4 linked regions of the Homo sapiens genome follow. The protein of the gene in region 2 interacts with the protein of the main gene of each other region in a biochemical or structural test. Each region holds a gene or a part of one and is shown on either strand. Other genes may lie near its edges. The genes, in order: NUAK1, USP9X, RNF115 and NRP1.

The links.
Region 1: the proteins of USP9X (region 2) and NUAK1 form a complex in vitro, tested with the Homo sapiens proteins (one study listed by BioGRID).
Region 3: the proteins of USP9X (region 2) and RNF115 form a complex in vitro, tested with the Homo sapiens proteins (one study listed by BioGRID).
Region 4: of the proteins of USP9X (region 2) and NRP1, one has a biochemical effect on the other in vitro, tested with the Homo sapiens proteins (one study listed by BioGRID).

What each region holds. Positions count from the first base shown.
Region 1 is NC_000012.12:106,135,348-106,143,815, forward strand, and holds the start of NUAK1 (NUAK family SNF1-like kinase 1), read right to left. Parts: upstream 3,608-8,468; 5' UTR 3,307-3,607; coding exon 3,067-3,306; intron 1-3,066. UniProt on the Homo sapiens protein: Serine/threonine-protein kinase involved in various processes such as cell adhesion, regulation of cell ploidy and senescence, cell proliferation and tumor progression. Phosphorylates ATM, CASP6, LATS1, PPP1R12A and p53/TP53.
Region 2 is NC_000023.11:41,088,445-41,096,360, reverse strand, and holds part of USP9X (ubiquitin carboxyl-terminal hydrolase 9X), read right to left. Parts: intron 1-7,916.
Region 3 is NC_000001.11:145,764,546-145,772,461, forward strand, and holds part of RNF115 (E3 ubiquitin-protein ligase RNF115), read right to left. Parts: intron 7,375-7,916; coding exon 7,166-7,374; intron 1-7,165. UniProt on the Homo sapiens protein: E3 ubiquitin-protein ligase that catalyzes the 'Lys-48'- and/or 'Lys-63'-linked polyubiquitination of various substrates and thereby plays a role in a number of signaling pathways including autophagy, innate immunity, cell proliferation and cell death.
Region 4 is NC_000010.11:33,324,020-33,331,935, forward strand, and holds part of NRP1 (neuropilin-1 isoform a precursor), read right to left. Parts: intron 6,864-7,916; coding exon 6,689-6,863; intron 1-6,688. UniProt on the Homo sapiens protein: Cell-surface receptor involved in the development of the cardiovascular system, in angiogenesis, in the formation of certain neuronal circuits and in organogenesis outside the nervous system. Mediates the chemorepulsant activity of semaphorins.

The sequences.
Region 1 (8,468 bases), on a different chromosome or scaffold from region 2:
CTGGACGACACACAGGGTCGCACCAGCTGACTCCAAGCATCTCATTCTGCACTTCTCTTCAGAACTGCCTTTCGCGGCACATAGAAAATGATGCTGTGTTGTGTTTTGTTTTATTCAGAAGGTCCTTCCAGGTATGCAATTAAAAACCATCACATCCTCATTTTTTAGAAACTTCTCTCCTCTCTGAGAAGAACCCCTGCTTTCAACAGGGATGTTGATTTCACAGCATTTCATACAACCCCATACTCGGCACCTGTCTTGGGCCACTCACATTAGTAAAACACGTTAGAACCACTGCTCCTCTTGAGAGATGCTGTAAAAGGCACTGGTGCAAATGAAAATAAAACATCACTTCAAAATTCTACCCAAAGATCAAAAGGCTAAATTAAGATAGTGCCCTTTCAGTTCTCCTCAACTGCACCTTCAAAGCATGTTGTGAATGTTTAGCACATCGCTGGTACCAGAAGAAAACTCCAAGTTCATATTTTAGATGAAAATGTCTTACTGCTCTTAACAGGTTCTGAGTCACCAGGCACTGTATGGGCAAGAACAACTCGTTGACCAATTTTTTGTTTGTTTGGTGTTATTTTCTGTTCAGCCAGTCACAGGAAATTTTCCACTTGACAATTCCTGTTTCTCACTAAAGTTCTTAACACCATCTGTGAGCAGTGTGCTCAGCAGGGGGAGGACGGGGGGCCAAGGAGGACTTTCCTTCCCCAAACCTCAGTTTTCCCATCTGTTTTATGCAAGGTTTTTACCCAGGGATCTGGCTAACATTCTGTAAGCTCAGCTATCAAGGAGAAAGCAGCCCCATGAATAAACGAAGCATTTTAGAGACTGTCAGTTTCTGGGCGTGGGTCTGCTGCCAGATTTAAAATCTTTACATAATTTTGGGGTAAAACAAGAGATTTAGCTGAAATTAATAGCACAATGGGAAAATGAACTAGGGCTGAACAATAACACAGCGGGACTTCAGATTTGCGGCTGGTAAAGAAGCCTCTCTCGTTCTCAGGGCGCCCCCTCGTGGCCGCTTGACTAAATCCTGACGGAATGTTCAGTTTCTGCAAATACAGAGAAAGACATCCCCCAAAAGAGAAAGGCGGACTCCTGCCTACTGATGCAAATCCCTTTCACTCTAACCTAGTCTGTGGATCAGACAGCTCAAGAACGCCTGACAGGAAGTCCCACTGACGCTCAGAAAGGCGTCTGCCATAAGACAAGGGTTCGTTCGTTAGAAAGGTCTGAGGTAGTGCCCCAGCATTTAGACTTTGGGGTCCCTTCACAGACCCTAGACACACCCTTACCACTTCAACAACCCCTCATAGCCTCACATTCTCAACCTGCAGCTCGAACTGCGTCTGTTTTTCATTATTCTGCTTCCCACCTTCCCAGTGCGATTCTTCAGCAGCTATTAAGACAACATGAGCAGGGATCTAAGCTTAGTTTTTGCTTATTCAACATCCAGCCTGGGGAATATCACCTCAGAAGAAAAGCATGAATGAAGTGCACGTTTCCCAGCCTCTTCTTCCACAAACCTGAAATTGCCTTCATCAGAGGCCACCCTTACAACCCTCCCCTTTAACAATTTCATCCTACGAAAATGGCACCTGCCCAGAGTGAATTCTCAACTACTTGCTTGCTGTAGAATTTATTACAGAGCCAGCTTTAAAAAGAAATGTACGCCATCTCAAATTTCCAATTAATTGATAACAGATTTTTTTTTAAAATAACGTTATGGGACGAAGTTATATAGACCCAAACATCAAATCTGAGAAATGGGTTGGGAGGGCGTTATCCGGGTATCCAGATATTTGAGAATTTGGGGACTGAACTTTGCTGACTGGCACCCCCATGTTTTTTTCACAGAACTGTTCCTGCCGAAATGCAAAAGAAACATGTCAATACTAAGCTGCTATTTTATTTGACAGCTCATTTTCCTTTTTCCCTGCAGTCATTTGTTGTTTATAAGCAAACCTGAGCCTCCAAAACACCCCCAAAAGTGCACACAAGGAGTCCCATAATCAGTTTCTGACTTTGGCCCTAAATCGATTAGAATACATCTGATCTGCTTCAAATCAAAGAACCATGTTAATTTTCTGCCACACACCACACAAAATCTTTCTGCAACAGTCAGTCACTTTGAACCCAACTCTCTAGCCACAAGCAGTGTGGATTTCAAGGGCCTGTTCTGCAGAAGTGAAAATAACAACAAACCAAGGCTGGGACAAGGCAGACAGACCCCAAGGCACTCAAAGCACTCCTTGGAGCTGTGCAAATGGTGCCAGGACCCTGGCAGGGTGTCAGCTGTCACAAGAGCAGCGGGGCCAGACCCCTTCAGCGGTTTGGTAGCCCTGCAACCAGGAGCTGAAACACAACTGAGCCTGCTGCAACTAAGCACAGCTATCTCTGTAGCTACCCATGCCCTGGACATTTCGGTCCTCCCAAAGCCATGATGCAAACTGTTAGAATCCTCAGGCTTGCAGTAGTCTTTATTTTTGCTCCCTAACCTTGTCTCAAAAACAGGCAAGAGTCGCCCTCCCTTGCAGTCACAGCAGTATCAGGGCGATGCAGAGTCTGAGTGGGAGGATGCAGAGCAAGGAGCTGCGGGCAGATGGGTGGAAGGGGGTAGGGACACCTACAAAACACCGGACTTGAGGGGCTAGCTCCTAGCTGGGAATGTGGTTCTTTGGAGAGTTGTGGAAATAAGACGTTTCGGGGCATGGTCTAAATGAGTGCCTGCGAGGGAGAGAGACCCCGGCCGTCCCAACGCTGCAAAGTGTTTGCAAATCTAAAACATTCCTTTGCTGCTAGGATTAAATTTTTAAAAACAAACCAAAAAATAAAATAAAATATGTGCAGACAGGATGTAACAAGTGTTTCAGGACAGAGACACGCCTGAGTCACGGGGTGCTGGAGAAAGAGTGAGGAGTCTGTCTCGGGGCTTCCCAATGAGCCCCCTCTCTGTCAAGAGAGCCCCAGGGCGCACAGACCCCCGCCTCGCACGCCCTCAGTCCCCGGCCGCGTCCACCCAGCGCCCCCCGCACCCTCCAGGATTGCCCCACTCACCACTCGGCCAGAAAACCTCTCGGTGGCCCGCTTGACTTTGCCGTAGGTGCCTTTGCCCAGGGTCTCCTGCAGCTCGTAGCGGTGCTTCAAGTTGTGCTTGTGGTGATGCCGCTTCACCCCGTGCGGCTTCCTGGGCTCCAGGGCTGCAGTCGCCCCCGCCACCGCCTCTCGGGGAGAGCCCGGCGCCCCCAGCCCCAAGTCGGGGCGGTCCCCCGCCACAGGCGCGGCGGCCCCTTCCATGTCCAAGCGCGGGGCGAGCCGGGCTACAGAGGGCAAGACCGGGCACAGCGCTGGGATGTCGGGGTCCCCACCGAGGGAAGCCGCTGTACGCTCAAGGTCGCCCCCGCAGCATCAGGGAGGCGGCCCGATACCGCTCGGACTGCGGCTCGGTCACTGGCGGCGGCGGGGACTGCACATCTGGCGCCCGCGGCGCGCACGGTCCGCGCACCGCCCCCCGGCCGCGGCGAGCTGTGGAGCGTCGGGCGAGGTGGCGGCGGTGGCAGGGGAGGCGGTGGTGTTTGCAGGAGGGAGGGGAGAGGGTGGCTCGCAGCGCAGGAGGGGGAGTGTTATGTGGGGCGCCGCGCCCCCCAACCCCTCCCCGGGAGGACGCGCAGACGGGGCGGGGGCGGCGCTCGCGCGGCCCCAGGGGAGGGGGAGCGAGGGGCGGTGCAGCCAGGGCTTCCCCCACCTCCCTGCAGCCACCCGGGGCCGGGGCCGCCGTGAGCTGGGAGGGGGATGGGAGCGTGTCGCGACTCGCCCTTTGTGCGGCGCGGCGTAGGCCACGGCGGCGGCGGCGGCGGCGGCCAGGAGTGCTTTGTCCTCGCTGGGCCGGAAGGGACCGGGAAATTCCAAGCCGGGCGCCCCCTCCCCGGGCGCTCTCGGGCTCGCCAGTCGCAGCTACCGCGGGCCCTCCGCCGCCTCGGGCTCCGGGGCCGGTCGCTCGGCCTGGATTCCTGCTGGCGCCGGGGCGGCGGTTGCGGCTGGCCGAGCCCCGGGGCCGGGGAAGAAAGAGCGCCGCGAGCCGGGGGCCGCCGGGACCTGCTCGCGATACGGCCGGGGCCGCCGCGGGCCTGGGCGCCCCTTCATTTTCTTGTAGGTGTCGCCGCAGCCTGGCGGCCGGAGCTGGGGGAGGGGGCAGGGAGGCCTGGTGTTCGGTTACAGGCGGTGACTCACGGACCTTGCCCGCCCGAGGCTGGCACCCCGCGGGGCAGAGCTGCGCCCGCCTGGGGCAACTCCGAGTCCAGGAGAACCCCAAGAGCGGCGCTTTGGCCCCGGCCCCCGCGCCCTCTCCGAAGAAAGGAGAGTCAGGGACGGAGGGAGGCCGGGAGGCTGAACCCCGGGCCCGCCGTCGAACCGCCGGCCCTCCGACACCATCTGGACCCCGGCGGGGACAGCCGCCTGGAAGGGGAGGAAGGCCAGGGACGTGGAAGAGATGGGGCTCTAAAGGCGCCGGGACGGAGCTGGCTCCCCAGAGGCGCCCACCCTGCCAGCGAAGGCCGCCATCGGAGGTGGGCAAACCAGGGACCTGGGGTGGACCAGGACCCCGGGCCTGCTGAGCAACCCGTTTGCTGAGCAGGAGGCGATTTGCAGGCCTCTTGCCTCCTTAGGCCTTGGGAGATTTCCTTTCACTGAAAGGGCCAGATCCTGGCGATGGTGACAGGAACGGTACCCCGCACGGTAAGGGTCAGGCAGGAAGGGCCTCCCACCGCGGCGTGGCTGCCGCCGTTCTAAGAAGAGACCATGAAAAATAAGGAAGAAGGCTAGAGAAAAAGAGGTCTTAGGGAAATTTTTTTTTTTAACAAGTGGTGCAATGTACCAGACTAGGGTGGGAAGAGTGAAGGCTGAAGAAGGTCTGGTGTTCTGCAGATCGCATGGCGGTTCTTTTCCACCAGTGGACCTCACTGGGGCCTCCTCTGCAGCTCTCAGGTGCAGCCCTTCCTCTACATTCCCGCCGCCTTCATTCCTGTCTACCCCTGGTCACCTTACCCCGGACTCCAGCAACAGCCCGCTCTCCCCAACCCTCCCCGGGAGCCTCCTCACTGCTGCCAGAGTAATGGCCTGAAACACTGCCCTCATCCTCCACACGTGTCTCTGCTGTACTCTGACGCGTGATATTCTTACCTGTCCAAACTTTCCTTCTACTGATATTTCACACAAACTTCCCTGCCCCTTCTTCCCTTCCCCAGGAGCAATGACAGAACACAGACACAAAGGCGCATCATGCCTATTCAATTCCTATTCTGTCCACCGCATTTGCAGGGCCTCCCTGCCACCCACCCCCATCCTGAAACTGTTCTGCTTCTATACAGTTTGTGGACGTTGTGCCTATAGATCCCACAGTCAGGATGAGTGGCATGCAGGTTGAGTCCTGGCTTCCCAGAGGATTGGCTGTGTGGCCTTGGTCAAATGACATAACCTCTCAGAGCTTCGGTTTTCTCTTAAGATATGGATTTAGCAGATCTATTGTAGAGATAAACACATTGTGTCTACAGTAGTATTTTAAAATATTTTCTACTTCTTCCCCTCCCCTGCGATGTGGTAGAAATCCACTACCCCATCCTCTTGAAGTTAGATGAGACCATCGGACTTGCTTAGGCCAATGGAATGAGAGCAGAAGTGATTGTGTTGCTTTCACTTGGAACCTTTAGGAGCCAGTGAGCAAATCCCCATGTCTTCTTTTTCCTATCTTGACAATCATGGTGGTACAAAGTTGGAGCCTCCCCAAGCCAGCCTGAGTCTCTGTGTAAAGATGGCAGAAAATCCCAGCCAATCTGCATTGGAAAAGTAGTGTCAGCAAATATTAAACTTTATTTATGTTAAGTCAGTGGGATTTGTTAAAGCAGCATAACCTGGCTTATTCTGGCTGATAGTGTTACTCCCAGATATGTGGGACTTCATCAGTATCTATTGAATCAACAGCATCATCTACCATAGGCTGGTACTGTTTTATGACAGTAAACCCTCCTCTGTAAAGTAGCTGTTTACAATCCCTATTTTCAATTGAAGAAACCGTATCAGAAAGGTTAAGTAATTTCCCAGAGGTTACACAGTTTGTAAATGGCAGGACCAGGATTTAAACCCTACCTGTCCAGTTCCAAAGCTCCCCCTTCTCCTTTCATATATGCCATGCTCCGTCTCCTTAAATGGGAAGGATGAAAAACACCCAGTACAATGCCTAGCACACAGTCATGCCCAGGCACTGGGAGTTCCTCTCCAGACTGAATTCCTACCACGTTTATAATTGGAACCACACTTCAGCACAATGCTATCAGGCATTGTGTGTGAATGTTTTCACATCGATAAAGCATTTTCTCCAACAAGAGCCCAGGCTCCTTGATTAAGAGCTTCAGATCTAGAGGCAGAGTGACTAGGTTCAAATCCCTGTTCCACCTCTTATGATCATCTTGGATAATTGTTTTCCCCCTCTATGCCTCAGTTCTCTAATCTGCAAAGTGGCGATGGTAACTTTCATGTGCGTCTGTGTGAAGAGACCACCAAACAGGCTTTGTGTGAGCAATAAAGCTTTTAATCACCTGGGTGCAGGCGGGCTGAGTCCAAAAAGAGAGTCAGCAAAGGGAGATAGGGGTGGGGCCGTTTTATAAGATTTGGGTAGGTAAAGGAAAATTACAGTCAAAGAAAGGGGGGTTGTTCTCTGGCGGGCAGGGGTGGGGGTCGTGAGGTGCTCAGTGGGGGAGCTTTTTGAGCCAGGATGAGCCAGGAAGAGCCAGGAAAAGGACTTTCACAAGGTAATGTCATCACTTAAGGCAAGGGCCGGCCATTTTCACTTCTTTTGTGGTGGAATGTCATCAGTTAAGGCAGGGCAGGGCATTTTCACTTCTTTTCTGATTCTTCAGTTACTTCAGGCCATCTGGGCGTATACGTGCAAGTCACAGGGGATGCGATGGCTTGGCTTGGGCACAGAGGCCTGACAGTAACAATGTATGTGGTATTAGCAATTACGCCAATAACACATCCCACAGGGTTGGTATGAGGATTAAGGGCTAGACTATATCCACTCAATAAATCGTGGATATTAATACGATACTTTTCATCTTCCATAGCTCCTACTAGAATTTGGAGCCTTTTTTTTTTTGCGATGGAATTTCACTCTTGTCACCCAGGCTGGAGTGCAATGGCACGATCTTGGCTCACTGCAACCTCCGCCTCCCTAGTTCAAGCAATTCCCCTGCCTCAGCCTCCCAAGTACCTGGAATTACAGGCATGTGCCACCACGCCCAGCTAATTTTTTTGTATTTTCAATAGAGACGAGGTTTCACCATGTCGGTCAGGCTGGTCTCAAACTCCTGACCACAGGTGACCCACCTGCCTAGGCCTCCCAAAGTGCTGGGATTACAGGAATGAGCCACCGTGCCTGGCCTGGGGCAATTTTAAGCAGTTTAATCATACTGCTTGGTTAGACTCTGATTTCTGGTTTTGTTCTTGGATACAGGACAGATGTAGTAACATTGGCACTTGAAAGTGTGACATCCACACTATCCTACATCTTTTATTTACATAAGGCTCATTACTGGTCCTTCACTGCACTTTCTATTTTCAAAGCAATTTAAAAGAAAGAAGGTATGTTCGCTTTCTCAAGAAATCGTTGTTCAGGAATCCTGTCATTCAGGCAGCATAGATGAGCTTGGAGGACATTATGTTGAGTGAAATAAGCCAGGCACAGCAAGACAAATACCACATGTTCTCACTCATATGTGGAAGCTAAAAAAGTTAATCTCATTGAAGTAGAGAGTAGAATTGTGGTTACTAGAGGTTGGGGGAGGGGACAGGGATAGCCAAAGGTTGGTTAGCGAGCACAAAATTACAACTAGATAAGACAAATAAGTGCTCATCTTTGATAGCACTGCAGGGTGACTATAATTAATAATTTAATTGGGAGGATACAATAAATTAGTAATTTATATTGTGTATTTAAGAACATACAGTAGAATATTATATTGTATATATTCATTATTGATTGTATATATTTATTTATTGTATGTTTATAATTTATTGTATATAAATTATATACAATATATTGTCTATATTAATAATTTATTTTATATATTCAGATAGCTAGAAGAGCAGATTTTGAATGTTCCCAACACAACAAAATGATATATGTTTGCTATGTGAATAACCCTGATTTGATCATTACACGTTGTATGCATGTATCGAAATATCACACTGTGCCCCATAAATATGTACAATGATGTGTCAGTTAAAAATAAAAGAAAAAAAAGAAACATTTGTTCAGAAAACATAGTAGTAGCAGTCATTATTTATTTACTACCTACTACATTATTTATTTACTACCTAGGACCCCTACATATGCATATCGCCCTGCTAATCATCGTAAAACTGCAAGGTGGGTGTTATGTTGCCCATTTTGCTACTGAGAAATC
Region 2 (7,916 bases):
TCCAAAATAGGAAGCAATGAAATAATTACAATTAAACCATCAGATTATTCACCTATGTTTGTATATCAAAGTATTTTAGGGCAAAATAACATCTACACAAACCAAGGAGAGGCTACAATTAATGCTCTCTGGATGCCAGTCTAACCCCTTGCGGGGAGCGGGGGGGAAGATGACACTTGTGCTTTGATAATCCACTGTTTAAGGAACCACATTGAGAGAGTAGTCATTCTGTAACCCAGATTCCCTTCTCTCAATGACCTTTCAACAGACCTCAACAGACAGCAGCTCTCAGTGAGGAAAGGGAATTGGAGGTGGCAGGAAAAGTTGAAAGGAAGACAATAGAGGTGTTTTGCTTTTTAGCTCAGTACTCCATTCTGTGGCAGAAAAGCCAAACTCAAATTAGCAGCACCTCCCTCATACCATGGGAGCACCCCATTGATCTCCTTCCTTTATTCCATTCCCTAATCATTATTTCTTATCTTTCAGAAGAACGGTTAAAATACCATCTCAATCCCCCGACACTCAACTCTCCAACACATCTGCCACGAATGCCATCAGAATTATCTTTCAAAAACAAACACAAATCTAATGTCTCCTTTCACTTAAACTTCAAAGTACATCTCTCATTACCTTAACAGTAAAAGGCAAATGTCCTAACATGGCACTCAAGGTTACCCCTTGTGATTTTAGCTTCACTCAAACTACCTTTCAGTTCCATCTCCCATAACCCCTCCCCTCCCAGTATCTCTAGTGTTCCTTGCACACTCTCCTACTAGTTCTTACTCTGAAAACACTATACTTTCACACTTGCATTGCTCCATTTCAAATAATGGTTCTCAATTTTGCCCCCAGGGCACAACTGGCAATGTCTGAAGACATATGAGTGGGGTAGGGGCTATACCACTGGCATCTTGTGGGTAGAAGCCAGGGCTGAGTAGGACAGCACCTCACAACAAAGACTTATCTGCCCCAAACTGTCAATAGGGTTAAAAAACCCTGCCTGATCTCAAGTTGATCCCTCTGACCGGAAGTCCCTGCTCTAATTAATAGGGCCATGAAAATAGGACATCTTTGAAGACCTCACCCAATGCCAAACAATGATTTCTCCATCTCTCCTACTACACTTTTCACACCTCCACTTAATACAGCTGTAATTGCACTGTATAACTGTCTGGTTCACCATACTTCAGAGCCTTGAAAGCAGAGAATCATCTTTATATACCCTCTGGTGCCTAAAATGGCACAGGTTGAGCATCCCTTATCTGAAAAATCTGGAATCCAAAATGCTCCAAAATCTGAACTTTTTTTTTTTTTTTTGAGACGGAGTCTCGCTCTGTCACCCAGGCTAGACGGAGTGCAGTACCGCGATCTGGGCTCACTGCAACCTCCACCTCCTGGGTTCAAGGGATTCTCCAGCCTCAGCCTCCTGAGTAGCTGGGATTACAGGTGCACACCACCATGCCTGGCTAATTTTCATATTTTTAGTAGAGACGGGGGTCTCACCATGTTGGCCAGGCTGGTCTCGAACTCCTGACCTCAAGTGATCTGCCCGCCTCAGCCTCCCAAAGTGCTGGGATTACAGGGGTGAGCCACCGCGCCTGGCCCCAAATTTCGGATTTTGAATTTTCACTCACCCGCAAGTAATATTCCAAATATTCCAAAATATGGGGAAAAAATTACAAAATCGGAAACACTTCTGATCCCAAATATTATGGATAAGGCGTACTAACTGAATCTATATTAAATCAATGAATTCAATTCAATCACAGTAAGGTAGCACTGACATGATTCTCCTTCCCATAATGCACCGAGGATAACAAAGCAATCCTCAGCTGACATTGATATGGCTCAGATAACGACATGCACTGACATCAGACAAGAAACACACCAGGCACGGTGGCTCACACCTGTAATCCCAGCACTCTGGGAGGATGAGGCAGGTGGATCACCTGAGGTCAGGAGTTCGAGACCAGCCTGGCCAACATGGTGAAACCCCATCTCTACTAAAAATACAAAATTAGCCGGGTATAGTGGCACCCACCTGTAATCCCAGCTACTCAGGAGGTTGAGGCTGGAGAATCACTTGAACCCAGGAGGCGGAGGTTGCAGTGAGCCGAGATCACGCCATTGTACTGTAGCCTGGGCAACAAGAGTGAAACTCCATTTCAAAAAAAAAGAAAAAAGAAATACACCTGTAGTCACTACAGTAGGTTCCTCCTCCAACACTCAGTCTGGCCCCACAATCCCTCTTGCCTCAGCTCAGCATGCTCCAAGTCAACTCTTAAGAATCCTGGATAATTAATTATATCTACAAAGGACACAGTAAACAGATAATATACACACTAATTAAATGAGTAAATGAGATTTTCTATATTTTCAAAAGTCTGGACAAATGCTGTACATAGCCAGTATCCTCCTTTCACATTCCCGAAAATGTGAGAGAAGTCAAAAATTTCAAAAACGACAGTCACCTTTTTAGGGGTTTTTCCCACTCACAGAGTACAGAAACTTTTATTTCTAATTATACCCTCACCTTTCAAATGTAAACTTCATCATACATTTGCCTCACTTAATTCCTATTTCATTCTAATTATTGCATTCACTATTTGCACAAAGCCAACTAACCTAACCAATGAGCACAACCTAATCCAGTAAGGTTTAAGATTCATATCCCTAACCAGTTCCCTCTGTCTCAAGGATATTTAAGACCTCCAGGTAGGCCAGGCATGATGGCTCATGCCTGTAATCCCAGCACTTTGGGAAGCCGAGGCAGGCGGATCACCTGAGGTCGGGAGTTCAAGACAGCCTGACCAACATGGAGAAACCCCAACTCTATTAAAAATACAAAATTAGCTGGGTGTGGTGGCGCATGCCTGTAATCCCAGCTACTCAGGAGGCCGAGGCAGGAGAATCACTTGAACCCAGGAGGCGGAGGTTGTGGTGAGCCGAGATCGCGCCATTTACTTTTTTGTTTTCTGCTCATTCTTATAAAAAGGCAAAATACATCTGAACTTGCACATAAACACAAGATACTGCCGTACAAATACAGCAAAGCTGCTGAAACCAAACTATTCTCAGGCAATACCACCTTGCAATAAAAAGAAATCCCTTTCATCAGCTAATGTACAGAAGTTTGAACCTGACTTAAGGAAAGGAGGTTCAGAGTTGTTAACATATAGTGTATCAAATAGGAGGTCAAGCACAGTGGCTCAGGCCTATAATCCCAGCAACACTGGGAGGCCAAAACAGGAGGATTGCTTGAGGCCAGGAGTTTGAGACCAGCCTGGGAAACACAGTCAAACCCCTGTTCTCTAACAAAAATTAACCAGGTGAGGTGATGTCGGCCTGTGGTCCTACTTACTCGGCAGGCTGAGGTGCGAGGATGCCTTGAACCCAGGAATTCCAGGCTACAATGAGCTATGATTGCGTCACCACAATCCAGCCTGAGTGACAGCGAGACCCCTCCTCTTAAAAAAAAAAATCACTGCTCTTAACTAGGGGCTGGCAAACTATGGTAACAGACCAATTCCAGCCTCCTGTTTTTGTACAGCTCACAAGGTAAGAATGGATTTCACACAGAACGTCTGCAATCAATTTGATGACAGGGAACACTGAACTTTACCCAATAAAGCAAAATACTGTATTACCTCCCCTCCACACACACACACCAAATTGTTTTTCTCATTAGACCTAAGTTATACATAACTGTATTTAATTATATTTTTTATTTCACCAATAAAAATTTTACCCAATGTCCTCAATTTTGCCTCTTAGCCCACAAAGTCCAAAGTATTTACTATGTGGCCCTTTACAGAAAAAGTTTACTGATCCCTGTGCTCTGAACTCCAGAGATGTTACCAAGCAGAGCAACCAAAACTTTGTACACTACACCTCGACCAGAGAGAAAACACTGTTAGGCAGAAATGGGTTCAATACTATACGGTAACTTCCATGCTCTCTGGGGTCCAAGTTAATAATGAGCGGCCTTACTTAGGAGTTCTAAGTAACCAGTTAACAGAAAAGACTAGAAATGAGAGATGTAACCAACAGCCTCAACTTATAACTCTCAATAGCCACCAAAGTCAGCAGGAATAAAATGGACATCAAGGATACTAACAGGAGGCTTCGCCACTCCCTTTTTCCTTTCCACCCAATTCACAGGCTCTGTAGAAGATGGGATCTAATATGCACGATCACCAGCTCAAACTCATCCCAAGGAAAACAATTCCTTTGATTATGGTTGACTAACATGGTGTTCAAAGCTCACATGATTAATAAGAATAAACTGTAGGGTGCCATAAAATGAAGATGAATCAATTCTGTACAAGAGGTTGGAGGTACTGCAAGTTAAATACTGCCCCAGATTTTCCCATTCAGGTAATCAAATGGTTATTATAAACAGTATTATTCTAGGTGCTCTGTAATATACAAAGGTAAAGGACAGAATCCCTGACCTTATTATCCATTACCAGGGAGACAGTTTAATGTTAATTTTATGAGTGACTACAGAGAATTTAATAATTAATGTGATTTGACACATATAGATATAGCTTCATAAAGAAGGTAGTCTATGGCATGCTATCTTGGTCAAGTTACTTCACCTTTCACCTCTTTGAGCCATTTTTTTCATCTGAAAAATGAAGGGTCTGACTAGAAAGAATTGAGATCTCTTCCAGGATTTCTCATTGTAATGAGATTAGTAAGAAAAGTGACTCCCAGAAGTAAAAAGATTTAGCAAAAAATAAGTAAAATAGCAAGAATGTGATAAACTATATTCATCCAACAGTTACTAAATGTCTATATGCCAGGCACTTTCTAGGTGCTAAGGATATTATCACTGACTTAGAATGAAAGCCACTAACCTTAAAGATAGAATTGTGAGGACAAAATTAATCAAAACACCTAAACAAAGTAAATTAAATAGAAAAACACACTGTATAGAGATAATAGAGCATCAATACAGCAAAGGAATGGCAGGAGTAAGGGGTGACACCAGAGTATGTAATTTCTGGTCAAAAATTAACAGCATCAGAAGTACAGCTATTCCTAAAGCCAGTATGCCAAGAATTCCAAAAGAACCTATTTCTACTATACTTGACATTTGGGCTCACTGGAGAAAACTGGAGTTCAGAATGAAATTCTATTTAGTGACAAAAAAAATTCAATTGGCATATACCATAACAAAGTTTTTTTAAATAACAACTTAATCCAATCTCTCCTACGAGGTACATAAAAGAATGCCAGAAAACTAGCACTAAAGACTTTAGAGATCAGCTAGTCCAGCCCACCTCACTTCATATGTTAGCTTCTAGACAACAGTAATCTCTAGAACAGTGCCTAGCACACAGCAGATGCCCCAGAAGTATTTGTTGAACGGATTAAAAAGGAAACAAATGTCTTAACAGATATTAATGTTTATAGTAGAGCTGGAACCGTAACACCGAGAAGGTGCTAAGTGACAATAAATTTGATATATATGTGCACATATACTGTATATAATACATGTGAGTGTGGAATCCCTGTCTCTTCTAGTGTTTGAGCTTTTCACTACATGTTTGTGTTTCAGTCTGGAATTTTTGACTGTGTGACTAACAAAACGAAACTCAAACAAGAGTACTGCTGCCTAATGGTGGAACACATGACATGCAAAGGGTCTCAATTCTCCCCTTTCCCTAAAAGGGACTGCAAAAAAAAACCTCTGGTTACACATCAGACTCACCTATAGAGCAAATATATATTTTGAAAAAGCTCCACAGATGATTGATACACAGAGGTGGTAGAAAATCCTTGTTAGGCAGTGATTGAGAATAAAATTGAAAATCCATTTGCTGCCAAATATAAGATATGTGTGTATACACACGTTGAAGACACCAAGATTTAGCATGAGTATCTTTGAAGAATAAATTTTAGGTAAGCGATCTCATCCTAACAATATACTTTTTCACAAGTTATTCTTTAAAAGTATATTACAATGGTCATCACTTTATAATCCACAATAAATTATAAATTCAATGCCCAATATAGGTAAGTGTTAGAAGTTTTAAGTCTTTTTCCTTATTACATCAACTTTTTTCATGATCCTTATAGTCTCATTTTCTATAATTTAACAAAAAGATCTTTGGGGAATCTTGTGTCACACTAAGAATGCTCATAGGGCCGGGCCCAGTCGCTCATGCCGGGAATCCTAACACTTCGGGAGGCCCAGGTAGGCAGACAGCTTGAGCCCAGCAGTTCAAGACCAGCTTAGGCAACAAGGCAAAACCCATCTCTATAAAAGAGAAAAAAAATACAAATAGCCAGGCATGGGAGCACCTGTAGTCCCGGCTACTCAGGAGACTAAGGGGAGAGGATCACCTGAGCCCAGGAGAGGTGGAGGCTGCAGTGAACCGTGACCACTCCAGCCTCAGTGACAGAGTGAGAATCTGTCTCAAAAAAAAAAAAAAAAAAAAAAAAAAAACCCTCATAGATCCTAAACTCCTATAGGCTTCCCTGCTGCCATGCCCCCACCATGCAGAATTTGGTCCAATGGACCAAGGGGATTAAGAGACAGAAACTCCAAATAAATGTCTGTTATTGTTATTTCATTCGTTCCATAAAACAATTATACATCAATCCCAAAACAACACAAAATTCAAAACGCTTAATCAAAATCAAACTGATTTTGACTAAGACAAATAAAACTCTAAATTCTCAAACTGAGATAACAGAATTTCATGTGACACTAAACGGTAATTTGTGGGATCATTTAAATAAATTACTAGGAGACAAATGCATAGTTTCTACACCTTTTAGGAATGTTGTGTAATATTTTGTCATAAACGCACCAACTAAACTATCACCCTGAGCACGCTGGAAGATATATGGAAGGGGAGAAACCTATTTGCCACATAGCTTTTAACATCTCCCTTGGGCAACCAAGATATTTATCAAATTGGAGACTATCTTGATAGTCTTAAAAACTAAACTATATCTTAACTTACTCTGGTACGAGAAACAAACCAAAAGCTCTAAATGCTTTTTTAAAAATAGCAATCAGTGTCATTTCACTAACATAGCACAGTAGTCGAAGCACCACTGGTTGAACCTGACAGACCTCAGACCCATCGTAAGGCAATAAATGGAAAATGCTTAACAGTGCTGACAGACAATTAATGCTCAAATGATAATCATGCTAATAACTGAAAACAATTGAGAAAAAAATCCATTTTCTTATTTATCCACTTGAAAGTTCTAACAACATGATAAAAACAATAGCCCAGTGGTTTTCAACTCCAAATGCATGTAAGAATCATCCACAATGCTTTTAAAATATACCTTTGCCCAGGCTCCCTATCAGACCAATTAATCAGTCTCTGGGGGTGGAACCCAGGGATCAGTTTTTTTGTTGTGGTTGTTTTTTAACCCCGCCAAGTGATTCTCATGTCCAGTCAGGGTTGAGGTCCAATGCACTAACTCTTTCCCAAATATTAACGTTAAACTCTATGTTAAAATAATACAAGAACTTAGCAATACACAGGATGGCTTTCAAAAACACAGCTCCTAAAAGAACCAAATGACAACTAAAATCCGGTTTTTTCCCTTTTTGAAAAAAAAAAGAAAAACAATTCAAGACTCAGAAAACATACCTACAAGAGGGGAAACATAATGTAGGCTACCATAAAAAGTAATACGTTCTTTCAGAATAAAAATCAACTAACTCAATCTCAGGATAAGACCCCCCTCACCTTCACTGCCCAAAAGACTTAGAAGAACACTAATCCATTAACACACACTGCTAGATATTTCAAATAACTAATTCTTAACATCTGTTTTAAACAAAGATTGGTTTTAATACTAAAATTTTGAAACTAAAACGTTAGAAATTGATCTTATTAAATAAAAATAAGCTCAAAGACACTTGTTGTGTGACCAACTAA
Region 3 (7,916 bases), on a different chromosome or scaffold from region 2:
AGGAGCCCCTCCGCCCGGCAGCCGCCCCGTCTGAGAAGTGAGGATCCCCTCCGCCCGGCAGCCGCCCCGTCTGGGAAGTGAGGAGCCCCTCCACCCGGCAGCCGCCCCGTCTGGGAAGTGAGGAGCGTCTCTGCCCAGCAGCCACTCGGTCCGGGAGGGAGGTGGGGGGTCAGCCCCCGCCCGGCCAGCTGCCCCATCCAGGAGGGAGGTGGGGGCCAGCCCCCGCCCAGCCAGCCGCCCCATCCGGGAGGGAGATGGGGGGTGCCTCCGCCCGGCCAGCCGCCCCGTCCGGGAGGTGGGGGGTGCCTCTGCCCGGCCGCCCCTTCTGGGAAGTGATGAGCCCCTCTGCCCGGCCACCACCCCGTCTAGGAGGTGTACCCAACAGCTCATTGAGAACGGGCCATGATGACGATGGCGGTTTTGTGGAACAGAGAAGGGGGAAAGGTGGGGAAGGGATAGAGAAATCGGATTGTTGTTGTGTCTGTGTAGAAAGAAGTAGACATGGGAGACTTCATTTTGTTCTGTACTAAGAAAAATTCTTCTGCCTTGGGATGCTGTTGATCTATGACCTTACCCCCAACCCTGTGCTCTCTGAAACATGTGCTGTGTCCACTCAGGGTTAAATGGATTAAGGGCGGTGCAAGATGTGCTTTGTTAAACAGATGCTTGAAGGCAGCATGCTTGTTAAGAGTCATCACCACTCCCTAATCTCAAGTACCCAGGGACACAAACACTGTGGAAGGCCGCAGGGCCCTCTGCCTAGGAAAACCAGAGACCTTTGTTCACTTGCTTATCTGCTGACCTTCCCTCCACTATTGTCCTATGACCCTGCCAAATCCCCCTCTGCGAGAAACACCCAAGAATGATCAATAAAAAAAAAAAAAATTAAAAAAAAATTATTTGAAGTGAAATATGAGTAATTCCTTAGCATTTATCACAATCTGGATGGAATTTCTCTTAAAGATCATGCAATTTCCTTGCTGATTCTATATGTACTAAACAACCATCTGATTGCTTTTGATTTCTTGATACTTGAGAAATTCAAAGACAAGAGTATGCTAACAAACAAATGAGTTTTATAGTCACTGAAACAGAATACCCTCAGTTATAAATTTATAAATTAATCTGCTGGCACAGGTCAGATGCACTTAAAGTCAGATAAGATGAGCTAGTCTATTCAAGACCTAATTAACTATCATTCAAAAGCTGCAGATTAGAGGATAAAGCACATACTTTAGGGACACTGAATAAATATTTGCAGAATGAATGAACAATGTGAGAGTTCCCTGTCTCTGTGTTAGTAAAAAAGTTTTACTCATGCCAATGAAAAAGTCAAAGAAAATGGACCTCATTTCAGGGAAACTTATTAAGTTGGTGTGAGGAACACACTAATAATCCCACAAAGGCTAATCTCTGACATCTGATTTCTTAAATACAAATACAAAGTACTCTTTTTCTTTTTTTTTTTTTTAATTGATCATTCTTGGGTGTTTCTCGCAGAGGGAGATTTGGCAGGGTCATAGGACAATAGTGGAGGGAAGGTCAGCAGATAAGTGAACAAAGGTCTCTGGTTTTCCTAGGCAGAGGACCCTGCGGCCTTCCGCAGTGTTTGTGTCCCTGGGTACTTGAAATTAGGGAGTGGCGATGACTCTTAACAAGCATGCTGCCTTCAAGCATCTGTTTAACAAAGCACATCTTGCACCGCCCTTAATCCATTTAACCCTGAGTGGACACAGCACATGTTTCAGAGAGCACAGGGTTGGGGGTAAGGTCACAGATCAACAGGATCCTAAGGCAGAAGAATTTTTCTTAGTACAGAACAAAATGAAAAGTCTCCCATGTCTACCTCTTTCTACACAGACACGGCAACCATCTGATTTCTCAATCTTTTCCTCACCTTTCCCCGCTTTCTATTCCACAAAACCGCCATTGTCATCATGGCCTGTTCCCAATGAGCTGTTGAGTACACCTCCCAGACGGGGTGGTGGCCGGGCAGAGGGGCTCCTCACTTCCCAGTAGGGGCGGCCGGGCAGAGGCGCCCCTCACCTCCCGGACGGGGCGGCTGGCCGGGCGGGGGGCTGACCCCCCCACCTCCCTCCCGGATGGGGCGGCTGGCCGGGCGGGGGGCTGACCCCCCCACCTCCCTCCCGGACGGGGCGGCTGTCCGGGCAGAGGGGCTCCTCACTTCCCAGTAGGGGCGGCCGGGCAGAGGCGCCCCTCACCTCCCGGACAGGGCGGCTGGCCGGGGGGGGGGGGGGGGGGGGGCTGACCCCCCCACCTCCCTCCCGGACGGGGCGGCTGTCCGGGCAGAGGGGCTCCTCACTTCCCAGTAGGGGCGGCCAGGCAGAGGCGCCCCTCACCTCCCGGACGGGGCGGCTGGCCGGGCGGGGGGCTGACCTGACCCCCCCACCTCCCTCCCGGTCGGGGTGGCTGGCCGGGCAGAGGGGCTCCTCACTTCCCAGTAGGGGTGGCCGGGCAGAGGCGCCCCTCACCTCCCGGACGGGGCGGCTGGCAGGGCAGGGGGCTGACCCCCCCACCTCCTTCCCGGACGGGGCGGCTGGCCCGGCAGAGGGGCTCCTCACTTCTCAGACGGGGCGGCTGCCGGGCGGAGGGGCTCCTCACCTCCCGGACGGGGTGGCTGCCGGGCGGAGACGCTCCTCACTTCCCAGACGGGGTGGCTGCCGGGCGGAGGGGCTCCTCACTTCTCAGACGGTGTGGCTGCCCGGCGGAGGAGCTTCTCACTTCTCAGACAGGGCAGTTGCCAGGCAGAGGGTCTCCTCACTTCTCAGACGGGGCGGCCGGGCAGAGACGCTCCTCACATCCCAGACGGGGTGGCAGGGCAGAGGCGCTCCCCACATCTCAGATGATGGGCGGCCGGGCAGAGACGCTCCTCACTTCCTAGATGGGATGGCGGCCGGGCAGAGACGCTCCTCACTTTCCAGACTGGGCAGCCAGGCAGAGAGGCTCCTCACATCCCAGACGATGGGCGGCCAGGCAGAGACGCTCCTCACTTCCCAGAAGGGGTGGTGGCCGGGCAGAGGCTGCAATCTCGGCACTTTGGGGGGCCAAGGCAGGCAGCTGGGAGGTGGAGGTTGTAGCGAGCCGAGATCACGCCACTGCACTCCAGCCTGGGCACCATTGAGCACTGAGTGAACGCAACTCCGTCTGCCATCCCGGCACCTCGGGAGGCCGAGGCTGGCGGATCACTCGCGGTTAGCAGCTGGAGACCAGCCCGGCCAACACAGCGAAACCCCGTCTCCACCATAAAAATACGAAAACCAGTCAGGCGTGGCGGCGCGCGCCCGCAATCGCAGGCACTCGGCAGGCTGAGGCAGGAGAATCAGGCAGGGAGGTTGCAGTGAGCCGAGATGGCAGCAGCACAGTCCAGCTTCGGCTCGGCATCAGAGACAGAGAGAGACCATGGCAAGAGAGGGAGAGGGAGACCGTGGGGAGAGGGAGAGGGAGAGGGAGAGGGAGCCATTGTTTCATCTTACCCCTGAGAAACAAAGGCCCAGCGAGGTCAGACGCTTGCCCTTGGCCTGGGCCACACAGTGAGTGAAGGTCAGAGCCTAGGCGGGAAACCACCTCTTTCACGGCAAAGCCTTTGTTCTGGCCTCACTCCTCCACTTTCACTCTTCTCCGCTCAGATCCTGCCCATCCCCTGGGCTCACAGGAGATGCCCCTTGGAGGCCTCCAGGCCAGCGCCCACCCCTGTGGCTGTGGCATCCTCTCCAATGGCAGGCACAGACCTGGACCCTGTTGGCGCCAGCCAAAGTACTCTTTTTCTTGAAATGAGGTCTTGCTCTGTCGCCCAGGCTGGAGTACAGTGGCGCAATCTCGGCTCACTGCAACCTCCACCTCCCAGGTTCAAGTGATTCTCCTGCCTCAGCTTCCTGAGTAGCTGCGATAACAGGCAACCGCCACCATGCCTGGTTAATTTTTGGATTTTTAGTAGAGATGGGATTTCATCATGTTGGCCAGGCTGATCTGGAACTCCTGACCTCAAGTGATCCACCTGCCTCGGCCTCCCAAAGTGCTGATTACAGGTGTGAGCCACCGCACCCGGCCATTAAATACAAAGTACTCTGTCTACAGTGAAACCCGTAGAATGAACAGGAATCTGAGATGCAGCCCATGGAAACCATAAGTGGAATGCCCATATGCTCCTTCTCAAAGCAAGAGGACAAAACTGTTATCAGGAAGAAGCCATGCTAAAATTCAATCAATTTTTAAAAATGTATAAAACATGAAATTGTACTTTCAAAACATACAGTGACATCATAATGACAATTACTGTAAAGTAACAACCATATGGAACAATCTAGGCAGGCCTGCTAGCTGGGTATAGTAATAGGCCCCAAAGATATACTGTGTTTATTTATACTTCTATGAAAGAAAAGAGAAAAGAAACTGAATTAAAAACTTTCAAGTTCTATTTACTGATATACTGGTGCCTTGGAAGGAAAGTTTCTGAGAAAATTAGGGAAATGCTTAAATCTTTGGTTAAAAAATAAGTGAGAAGGCTACTTAATTTTAAATTTTTGACTTATACTAAATAGTTATACTAAAATTTTTTAGTATAAGTAAACAGTTAAAAATCTCACCAAATACAAATACTTTGATTATTGCACTATCCTGGCTCCAATATTTAACTGCCTTTATACTCTTAGACAATTTACCTAAACTCTCTGTGCCTCAGTTTCTCCAGTAAAATGGAGATATTCACAATACCTTCTTCACATGGTTATAGTGAGGATTAAACAAATGAATACCTGTAAAGCATTTAGACTAGTTTCTGGCACATACTCTTAGCTATTATTACTATTAATTCATATGTTTTTTATACTTTTTAGAGACATAATTACAATTATCCACTTATTCAAAACAAACATGTTTAGTAGCCACTATAAAACCGATACTGCACTAGAAGCTGAGAATACAGAGATAAATAAAACACTACCCTATACTATCAACCACAGAAGTAACTGAAAAGACTGTAATAGATCTAGTTCCCAAAAAGATACCAGGTCCAGATGGAATTACAGGTAACTTGCATTAAACCTTTAAATAATAGGTAATTCCTGTGTTATGTAAACTATTTCCAAGCATAAGAATACAGCAAGTTTTCCCAGTTCCTTTTATGAAACTAATATAATCCTGACACCAAAACTTGATAAAGAGACTCATCCTCTTTTGAATAAATGTAAAAATCCTTAAAAAAAAAAAAAAAAAAGATAAGGAACAAATCAACTCCAATAATGTGTTAAGAGACTCCAGCCTGGGCAACCTAGTCTCTACCAAAAATTGAAAAATTAGCCAGGCGTGGTGGCACATGCTTGTAGTCCTACCTAGTTCATAGGCTGAAGTGGGAGGATTGCTTGAGCCCACCGAGTTTGAGGTTGTAGTGAAACATGATCTTGCTACTGCATTCTAGCCTGGGAAACAAAGTGAGACCCTGTTTCCCCAACCCCGACCCCTAAAAAAGAGGTTTTAGTGCTCCTTGACAAAGCAGCTTGAATAAAAACACTAGAAAACATTAGAAAACCTACTTGTTAATAAAATGCATTAACTGTTTAAGGGAGAAAAACTCTAAGGTCATTTTGATAGGACTGCAAAGGGCATGTGACAAAATCATTAGTCATTCTTAATTAAAAGCCCCTAATAAATTATGAATAAAATTAAACTTTCTTAGTATGATAGTGCATATATTAGGAACCAAAAGCAAACAAGTTTAACAAAGAAACACTAATGGATAGATATGTAATAACGCAAGTATAGTAAAATGTTAATAAAGCCTAGAAGGTGTGTGTTGGGGGAAAGGGGGAGTGTAGGCTCTAGAACAGCACTGTTCAATAGAACTAAGATAATGGAAATTTTCTATAATATGTTCTGTCAAATATGATAAGTATTAGCTACATGTGGCCAATGAGCACTCAAAATATAGCTATTTGGGATTGAGGTACTTTGAATTTTGAGTTTTATTAACTTTTGGTTAACTTAAATGTAAACATATAGCTACATGTGGCTAGCAGCTACCATATAAGACAATGTCGCACTAGATTCATATAGCCCTAGATTCAAGTCTTAGATCCACCAACGGCTGTTACTTTATTTCTGAGACTCAGTTAATTATTTTATAAAATGAAAACAGCAATAGCACCTATTACTTCACACAAATTAAACAACATAAAGCAGATAAAGCATGAAGCACAGTCCTCTGCATATGGTAAACACTTAAAATTAACGTTTATTATTCCAACTAAATGAGATCCATGAGCAAAACCATCTATTTGACTCATCATTGTGTTCCTAGTGTCTAGTACAGTGTCCCATACAAAAGACACTCAACAAACATTTATTACATGAATGTTTTTACAGTCACAAGACTTCATATTTATCCTATTAAATTTTTTTCCTTTCTTCACAAAAAGCAGATACTTGATTAAATTTCATGTTAAGTCCACTGTTCCAATCTGTTGAAATATTTAATCCTAATGCCTAATATATTTGATACCCTTTTGAAATTTTGATAAATATACTGCTATAGTTTGAATGTGCCCTCCTCAAAAATTCATGTGTTGGAAACTTAATCCCCAGTGGAGCAGTGTTGAAAGGTGGAGACTTTAAGAGATGAATCTCCTGTGAGTGGATTAAATGCCTTTATCCTGGAAGTGGATTAGTTATTGTTGAGTGAGTTCCTAATAAAAGGATGAGTGTGGCACCTTTCTTTCTTGCTCATGCATGCTCTCTTGCCCTTCTGCCTTCCAACATGGAATGACACAGCAAGAAGGCCCTCGCCAGATGTGGATCCCTCAACCTTGGACTTCCCAGCCTCCAGAAATATAAGAAATGAATCTCTGTTCTTTATAAATCACCCAGTCTCAGGTATTCTGCTATAGCTGCACAAAATGGACTGAGACACATATCATCTATAAATTAATCTGAGCCATTAATAAAAATGTTAATCAGAGACATAGCATTTCTCACTCTCTGGTTTATCATCGGGTGAGTACTAACATTCAATTTAGCTTCACTTTCATCCTTTCTACATATGTCCATCTTGTCCACAAAGGTAATAAGTATGAGACCCTTATAAAGATTAGATTATACCAATTTGTCCTTCATTGAAACTACCTTAAAAAGAACTTAAAATAAAACAACTCACCCTTCAATAGCTGGAGATCTGTCAGGACGAGAACTTCCTCGAGATCTGTATCTCCGACCCAATGGCAACCGTGGAGGTCTTGCTCCCCAGAAGTCAGTGTGAGTCTGGTGACCCCTTTCATTGGCTCTATTATCTTGGTCCAGTGGACTGCTACTTAGAAAGGGTCTAAAATCTTGAAAAAACATCGTGTGATCCAAATGGCCCCAAAGCTAGTAAAGACCAGAAATAAGTCACATGTTAGAAAAATCAATCAATAAACACCTGGATTGTTTACAGTTTTTTATATTACAAATGGCCACTGTGAATATTACTGTATGTCTTCTTCTGCAGAGGTACCAGAGTTTCTATATTTTTGGTCTGTAAAACTATTACATGATCTATACATCTTCAACTTTACTGGGTAATGACAAATTGTTTTCCAAACTGGTTGTAGCAATTTAAACACCCACCAAGTGTTTAAGAGTTTCTACTGTGCCACATCCTGGCAAGCACTTGATGTCACAGGACTTTTTTTAAAAAAAGTTTTTAACAATCAGTGAACAGAAAATGATTTTCCATTGTGGGGCTTTTGGTTTTGCTGTGTAAGAAAAATTACGAATGTTTAATTAAAATGCATGTTTCGGTCCTATGCCAAAAAGAAAATTTAATAGATCTGTGGTGAGCCTGAAGACTCCTTTTAGCATTTCTTACAGGGCAGGTCTATTAACAATGAAGCCCCCTCAGCTATTGTTTATCTGGGTATGTCATGATT
Region 4 (7,916 bases), on a different chromosome or scaffold from region 2:
TCCTTTAGCTCGCAAAAGTTGCTTCCTTTAAATTACAGAAATGCCTAACACAAAACAACCTCGTAATACTCAAAATTCATTATGATCAAATGTGATTGCTTATACTAAGGGATAATAAAGAAAATTAATTTTATTAAACACACGAGGCTCTGTTCAAATTAAATTTGGTGCTAATGGGGAAAAAAATCAAAAGGAAGAAAGCAGATAATTATCTGCCTGAGTAATAACCAAGGATGCTGCAAGTGGTAGTAACAACTTTGGCCAGCAGTTCTTCTGAGGAGGGTTCATTCTTCCACCAATAGTTTTTTAATTGAATTGAGCTTGGTGGTGGTGCCTCTCACATTGAGAAGTCACCAGAGATCAAAACCAGAAATAAAAAGATGAAGAAAAATACGGCAAAGGAGAATGTTTCTGAATTTGCTTGCACATAAAATCTGCATAATAAAGCAGGCTCCAGATTGAAAAGTTTGAAACAAAGACAAGATATTTCCATCAGTAGCCACTGAAAAAAATTAGAAAATGCATCAGTAGGATTCTGCTTTTTGATTAGAAATAGTACCTATTTTTTCTATATCCACTCCAAAGACTTTCACTGTCTATGTTCAAGGATAGTACCCACAGGCTTCTTTTTTTTGAGACGGAGTTTTGCTCCTGTTGCCCAGGCTGGAGTGCAATGGTGCGGATCTTGGCTCACTGCAACCTCCGCTTCCCAGGTTCAAGCCATTCTCTTGCCTCAGCCTCCCGAGTAGCTGGGACTACAGGCGTGCACCACCTTGCCTGGCTAATTTTTGTATTTTTAGTAGAGACGGGGTTTCACCATGTTGGCCAGGCTGGTTTCAGTCGAACTCCTGACTTCAAGTGATGCCTGCCTCTGGCTCCCAATGTTTGCGAGTGAGCCACCGTGCCTGGCCTGTACATACAGACTTCTAAGACTCTAGTTGAGTTTTACCTGATTTTGAAATGTATAAAAATGAAGTCACAGAAGTTAGGACAGCAGTTGCCCTTGAGGGCAAAGGTTGGTGACTAAAACTGACATCAGAGGGCTTCTAGGAAGCTGGAAATGTTGGCCTCTAGATTGGTTTTGTGGATGTATCCACCTTGCAAAATTTTATCAAATCTTATACTTGGGTTGTGTATTTTTCTAAATATATATTATACTTTACTAAAGGTATATATTCTTCTCTATTTCATATGGAAAATAGAGATGTAGTTTGGCTTAAAAAACTCAGTTTTCCATAAAACAAGGATTTTGTTTTAGTCTAAGTGATGCTCTAAAATACAAGACTAGAGTGAGGTACTTCCCTTGGATACAAAAAGCCAAAAACTCAGTGATTAAGATAAATAGTATTTTAATGTAACATTTTTTAAAAATCCAAATTAATCCTAAAAAATCCATGCTAGTAATAATAAAGAAAGATTAAAACAGAAAATATTACTCATATTACTCAGGAAAACAGAAAATGGAACTTACACTCCAAAAAATGCCAATAAGTGTAAATGTGCAGGAATAAATGTAAATGTGCGGGAATAATCAGATTTGAGAAACCAAGGGCAGATTATTTTTCATTCCATAAGTTTATATTCTCTGAAAATAAAAGACATTAGCACTGTTTCAAAGTTTTTAATAATTTAGGTAATTTAAAAACTAGCATTAAAGGAACAATATCTGAATTATCCCAACAAAATTCTGAAACGAATATCATCTCTATTTGCTTATAATTTCACTATGATTAAACTTCTTACGAAGTTACAAGTATGCGATCTTCCTTTGAACGCACTGAGTTAGGAAAAACATGCCTATTGTTGGTTACACAGAGGAGAGATTACAAATCTAAATCATAGTTGAAAAAAGCAACTGTGCCATGATATGAAACAGCACTGTCAAATCAGACACTGAAGTCGGTAAGTAAGATTTTCTTCTTGTCAGTAGGAAAAGCACTACTGGGTTTGAGTCCCCCAATGCTACCACCTTTTTAGACTTTTGTTAGAGCTTTGCATTCATTTCCTTAATGTTTTTAACCCAATGTCTGTGAAATTTTTATTGCTCCCCGGATGGTGACATCTGATCTGAATGTAACCATACACCTCTTTGCTCAGCAGTATTTGTCACAAACCATTATAAATTATCATGCTGATTGTGTGCATTGCTGGGAAACTGGAGAAGTTTCATAAATTCTAACTACCATATCAATGACATTCTTGTTTATTATACAGATATAAACTTTTATGAGATTCAAGATGTCTGCCTTACCACTGAAGAAAACTTTAGTGGAGTAAGATCTAACTAGTTCGATGTACATACTGAAAACCATTTTCAATGTGCAATGAACATGTGTTTCCGAAAACTCTCCACTGGTCACTTCTTTATTTCTTTTCTATTTTTAATTATGCTTTGACACTTCACAAGTGTGCAGGATTTTGCTGGCAAAAAAGAAATCAACATTCCTTCCTCTCCCTCAACACCTTCTTCGGTCAGAGCATTCTCTAGAATCCTCTCAATCTAATAATAAAATCATGCATATATATAGCTGGGAAAAAATCCTAGTTCTGTGTTAGCCCTGCAGACAGACGCTCCACTGGTCTGTTGATCGACTGATTTACACCACATCTTGTTCAATAAAAGAATTAAGGGGTTATAGTATTATGGTTCTGATGCTTATTTGTAATGAAACCTCATTCAGTGCTGGCATAGACACAGAATGTTGCATGTTAAAACTATGGAGGCACAACTTACACATTTAATTTTCCTAACGAAGTATCCACCTTTGACAGCCACTGCAAAAACTTCACCATTTTGCAAAGTATGATCCAGAATTAACTCATGAACTGGGTCAGTCTTGGTGCTATTCACATGAGAAGTTGTGACTGTATACTGTATTGTTAAGATTATGAAATGATGTTTTTTACCTAATTATACATAAAACAATAAAAATCTAAATAAAAAATTTTTTTTTTTCTACCAGGACTATGTAGCTGGTCTAATGACTTAACCATCCCTATACTCTACAAAAGAAAACTGTTTACTTGGGTTTCAAAGATGTTTCACAATAAGCAAATGTGCTAAGGCATCGATTTCTTAAGCTTTCTCAGGGTGGAAGTTGACTATACAAATACTGACCATTTCAAGAGAAAATGCAGGGTGTATCATGTGCAAATCATCTCATTACTGGGTCAATAGATTTAGTTTTGACGTATGTTTAGTTTCATATTTCCAAATGTTCTAAAAATCACCAACTTGTTAAAGATATCATAATAATGATAACTTATTTTGAGGGTCACTTTTACCTTTTAAAAAGGCTTTCCTATCTACTACTTGATCCTACTAGTAACCCTATGACATCAGCATAGCAAATGTTTTTTACTGCCAACAGACATATAATGAAGCTGGAACAAGGAAAAATATTAAATGTCTTAAATAAGATGAATAGTTTGTTCTTAACAAGAGTGATAACTAAAAGCTCACCAGCTTTCAGAATGTGGTTTTAACTGTGCCTAGTTTTGTGCCACCTCCAATCCATTTTTGTAAATAGCCTGATATAAAGTACAAAAAAACCCTAATAACAAAACTATGTTTGTAGGAATCTAATCTAAACTTTGAAGTCTATGAATTTGTTCTTCAAATAATTTCTGGTGTTCCCAGGTTTTTTTTTTCCCCCTAGGGCATTCCAATCCCCTGTAAAATTTAAATCTGTGGATTCTTCTCAAAGCCTTCACAAAAGGAGGTAAGTATTTTGCCACATTTGTAGAATCTCAAATGCACCCTTCAACACTGAGCACTAGTCATTCATATGAATCAGCTTAGAAAGATAGTGAAAGGAATGCCTTATGCTGGTCTTCCTATATCTTTCTGGAGTTTCTCATTGATAAAAAGCTCACAATGCAACACTTCAAAACACAGCAGGAAGATATTTTCCATGGATCTAATCTCCATTGACTTCATCAGGCTAAATATAACAGCCTTTCAGCTTTGGCCAGGAGATGACACCTTCACAGAGAGCAAAGCCTCAGTTGGGACAATTAAGAAATCACCTTACTCTGTAGCATTAAAAAAACAAACAAAGTCACCATTATTAAGATTGTTATGTAACATCTTCTTGGCCATGTCAGTTTCTCAAATACTTTGCTGATATCACTAAAACTGTCATTTTCTGTGAATTACAATCATCTTTTAATGTACTTTTTAAAAAGAAAACTAACCAAAAAGGTGCTCCTTTAATCCCATTATACCCCACCTGACACCATGATATGACAAATCATTATTTAAGGTTTACTGTGAGCTAGACACCATTGTAATACTGTGAGATGCTGTTGTAATAATTAGTATACGCTGATTATTTGGAAACTGATCATCAGCCTATGGATTTATGCTAATTCTCTAGGCACCAAAATGTTGAATGAACCAGATGACCTTATTTCCCTGACCATGAAAAGCTAGTTTACTACACCAACTCAACAGGTTGTTGAGCGCTTTCTACAGGTAGGAAGATTTTTATATTACTCTGTTCTTTCCCAGAAGAAATGTATGTGCAAATAGAATTGTAAGCCCTTTACATATATTAAGTGATTCAACTGGCTTCCCTTCTTAAATTTCTACTCCAGTTGTGTGCTGGATCTGGCGCCCACCAGCTCATAAGAACCAACTGTGCACATTTCTTTGCTAGTCTGGGCACAGTGACATCACATGGTTAGTTTGAAATTGGCTATGATGAGAGTATTTACACCACAGAAATTGGCATGTGCTACATACAAATGAGGACTTGACTCGTCTTCTCCAAAGAGCCAGCTGTTAAACATTTACCACCACATCACTGCCAATAACTAGTGATTATTCTGAATTCTTTAAGTATTATATTACACGTATTGATGGTCATGATTTCCAGATTAGAAATTAGTAAACGTCAGTTTATTGAATTCTAACAGCACTTTATTTTTTGGAATAATGTTATTACTTGAGTATGTTTTACCAGAGTTTCTCCTATAGCAGTTTAAACATGGTCAAAAAGCAAATACTAATAACTACTGCTACTACTAATGAAGTAAATCAAATATAAAAGAAAACAAGTCTCCAGATTGTCTAGGTGATTGACACTGTAAAAACCACCATAAAGAATATTAGCAAAAATAAATAAATCAATACAATGAACTCTTTGTTTCCAAGCAGTCACTGGAACACTATTAATGGTAACTTCCATACACAATTAAAAAGTCAATATAATGCCCTGAGGCACTTCTGAATCACAAAGCAAAGATAAATTGGAATTGGTGTAATTTTGTTGCACTGTAGTATACACTGATTATTTGGAAACTGGTCATCAGCCTGTGGATTTATGCTAATTCTCTAGATACTAAAATGTTGAATGAACCAAATGACCTCATCTCTCTGACCATGAAAAGCTAGTTTACTAAACCAACTCAACAGGTTGTCGAGCACTTCCTACAGGTAGGAAGATTTTGATATTACTCTGTTCTTTCCCAAAAGAAATGTGTGTTCAAATAGACTGTCTTTAACAATGAATATACTTGCAAAATAATATTTAGGTCCAGCGGTAGCAGTAGTCTGTAGATATCATATACGGTTACACCAAACTGACCCACTTTAAAACTTGTGAAAACCTCTCAGTCCCTGAGAAACACTTTAGAATTGAGATTTAAATCGATTATTTTTCTTTGATAAAACTATTTATATATGTACAAACTTAAAAGATGGATATTCAGGTTCAAGTCTCTGGAGACTACACCACTTTCAGTGGGTCAGAATGGGATAATGTGGACAAGACAGAGACAGGGGGTCTGTTGGGTGTTAAGAGAGACGAGCAAACATGTATCTGAGTGGACTGCTACGTGCAAGGTAAAAACATACTTTCGATACTGTGGAAAGCAATATCCACATACCAGTTCTTTCACATAAAGTGAGGAAATATAATTTCGACTGTCTCTATAGTGAGAATGTCTTCATAATAACGAAATTGGGCATAAGTTGATGTTTAGAAACTTAACAATAGAAAGAGATAGCAAGACTAAGCAGGTGGATGAAACACTGATGTGTATTTGAGTTCCCATTGTATTCATCGTGTCTTAACAATTATTTTCTAGCATTTTCCATAAAAGTATTTTAATCAGTAATCCACCATTTACAAAACCCCTCATCTGGCTTATCCTGTAGGCCTTATTTTATTCAATTTGCTTTTTCCATGTCAAACTTACTTAGTAAGATGAATGCAGTTCTTAAATCATAAGATGTGCCACAGTTCAATATATCTCAAATAGTGAGATCTCCAATCACACTATCTGTGGATGCGATGTATATTAGTGATCCACTGTATTTCGTAAAAATACAAGTGAGATTTTTGAGTTTCTAGTTCTTCCCCTCTCCAGGAAAAAAAAAAAAAGAAAGAAAAAAGAAACATACATACTGTATACATTTCTTAACAAGAGTTCCCAAACCAAAAGTGCTAACAGGAAGGAGTATAAGAGCTTACACATTTAACTATAATCTTCCTGGTTTGGGGAACTCAGAAATCACTTAACGTACTTCAATTTCCATACCATTGACATATAATCTGGCTGAGATTGGAATCCCTCCTGGATCCATTTATAATCTACATTGTACACACCGACTTCCCCCCCGTAGACAGGCGTGACCACTAGATGGTGCTGTGGTGCCCTGTTCAAAAACATTCCCACTTACTTGCAGTCTCTGTCCTCCAAATCGAAGTGAGGGTTGAAGTTGATCATAATTCTCTGGTATGGGTCCGGAGCCTGAATCAGCCATTCGCATTTTTCACTTGGGTGATAAGAATGAGGATAACCAGGAGATGTAAGGTACCCGGGGCTTTCAATTTTTATAGTATCGCCACATTTATCTGCAATGAAAGTAAGATTTTAGCAGATCTTTCCTGACAACCTGTTAGGTAATCTAGCTTTATATGTAAATTACTGGTTATTAAACATTCCTTAACTTTTTAAGGGGAACTCTAAAAGGTCCCCGTAAGTCCTTCGTGTGGCTCTGAGTGCAACACTCCAGGAAAAAACACTCTTTGATCTCAGGAAGGTTGACTCAGGCAGAAAGCCAACTGAGATCTGAGAGGACTCTTCCCCCCAGCCCCGAAGTTTCTTCCTAAGGAAAAGGTCTTCTAGCATTAAAAACATTAAATCCCCTCAATTGATGTTAACATGGTCCCCTGGGAGCTTCTGCTAGACTTAATTATCCCCCAAGAAGTGTAATCACATTAAGTAGCAAGTTCTAAGTGGAAAGTGACTGAAAGATGCTGTTCGACCCCTTGTGTTGTTTTTTGATGATAAGCCTGGTCTATGTCATTGATCAGTGGGGATTGTCTTTGATTGGCTTAAAGCCAAACCTTTTGTTGTTGTTGTTTTATCTGCCCATAAATCTAAGTGATTTTGAGTTATCTCTGCTCTTGAGATCCAAATCAACAGAGAACAAAGTATATTTGGTGAAGCAGAAATAATTCTGCTTTACTTCTCCAAGTAAAGTTGTTCAAGCTTGGAGATCGGATCAAAGCAACGGGGCAGAAGGAAAAGTAAATAGCCACATGGCATTAATTCTAATTACCTAAATGTTGGGTGAAAAATAACCCACCACACAGGTCTGGGTATCACATATGGTAACCCACATTCTCACATTCTGGGAAAGGTGAGCTAAGTAGTTTTGAGCCTTCATTTCAAAAATGCTCAAGTGAAGCCAAATAAACCAAGTAAACCAGTCTCTGGGCTGCCTATATTGTTCAGCATAGATTCTCATTGTCACATTTTATGATGGATTTCATACTGGAGCACCTCAGCCTGAAATGCTGCCACATTTATTGATGCTTAATTTTGAGCAATAAAAATTCGGTGCATAAACTATATAAGAGAAACGGTATGAAAACAGTGAAATATATAAGCCTATCAATCAC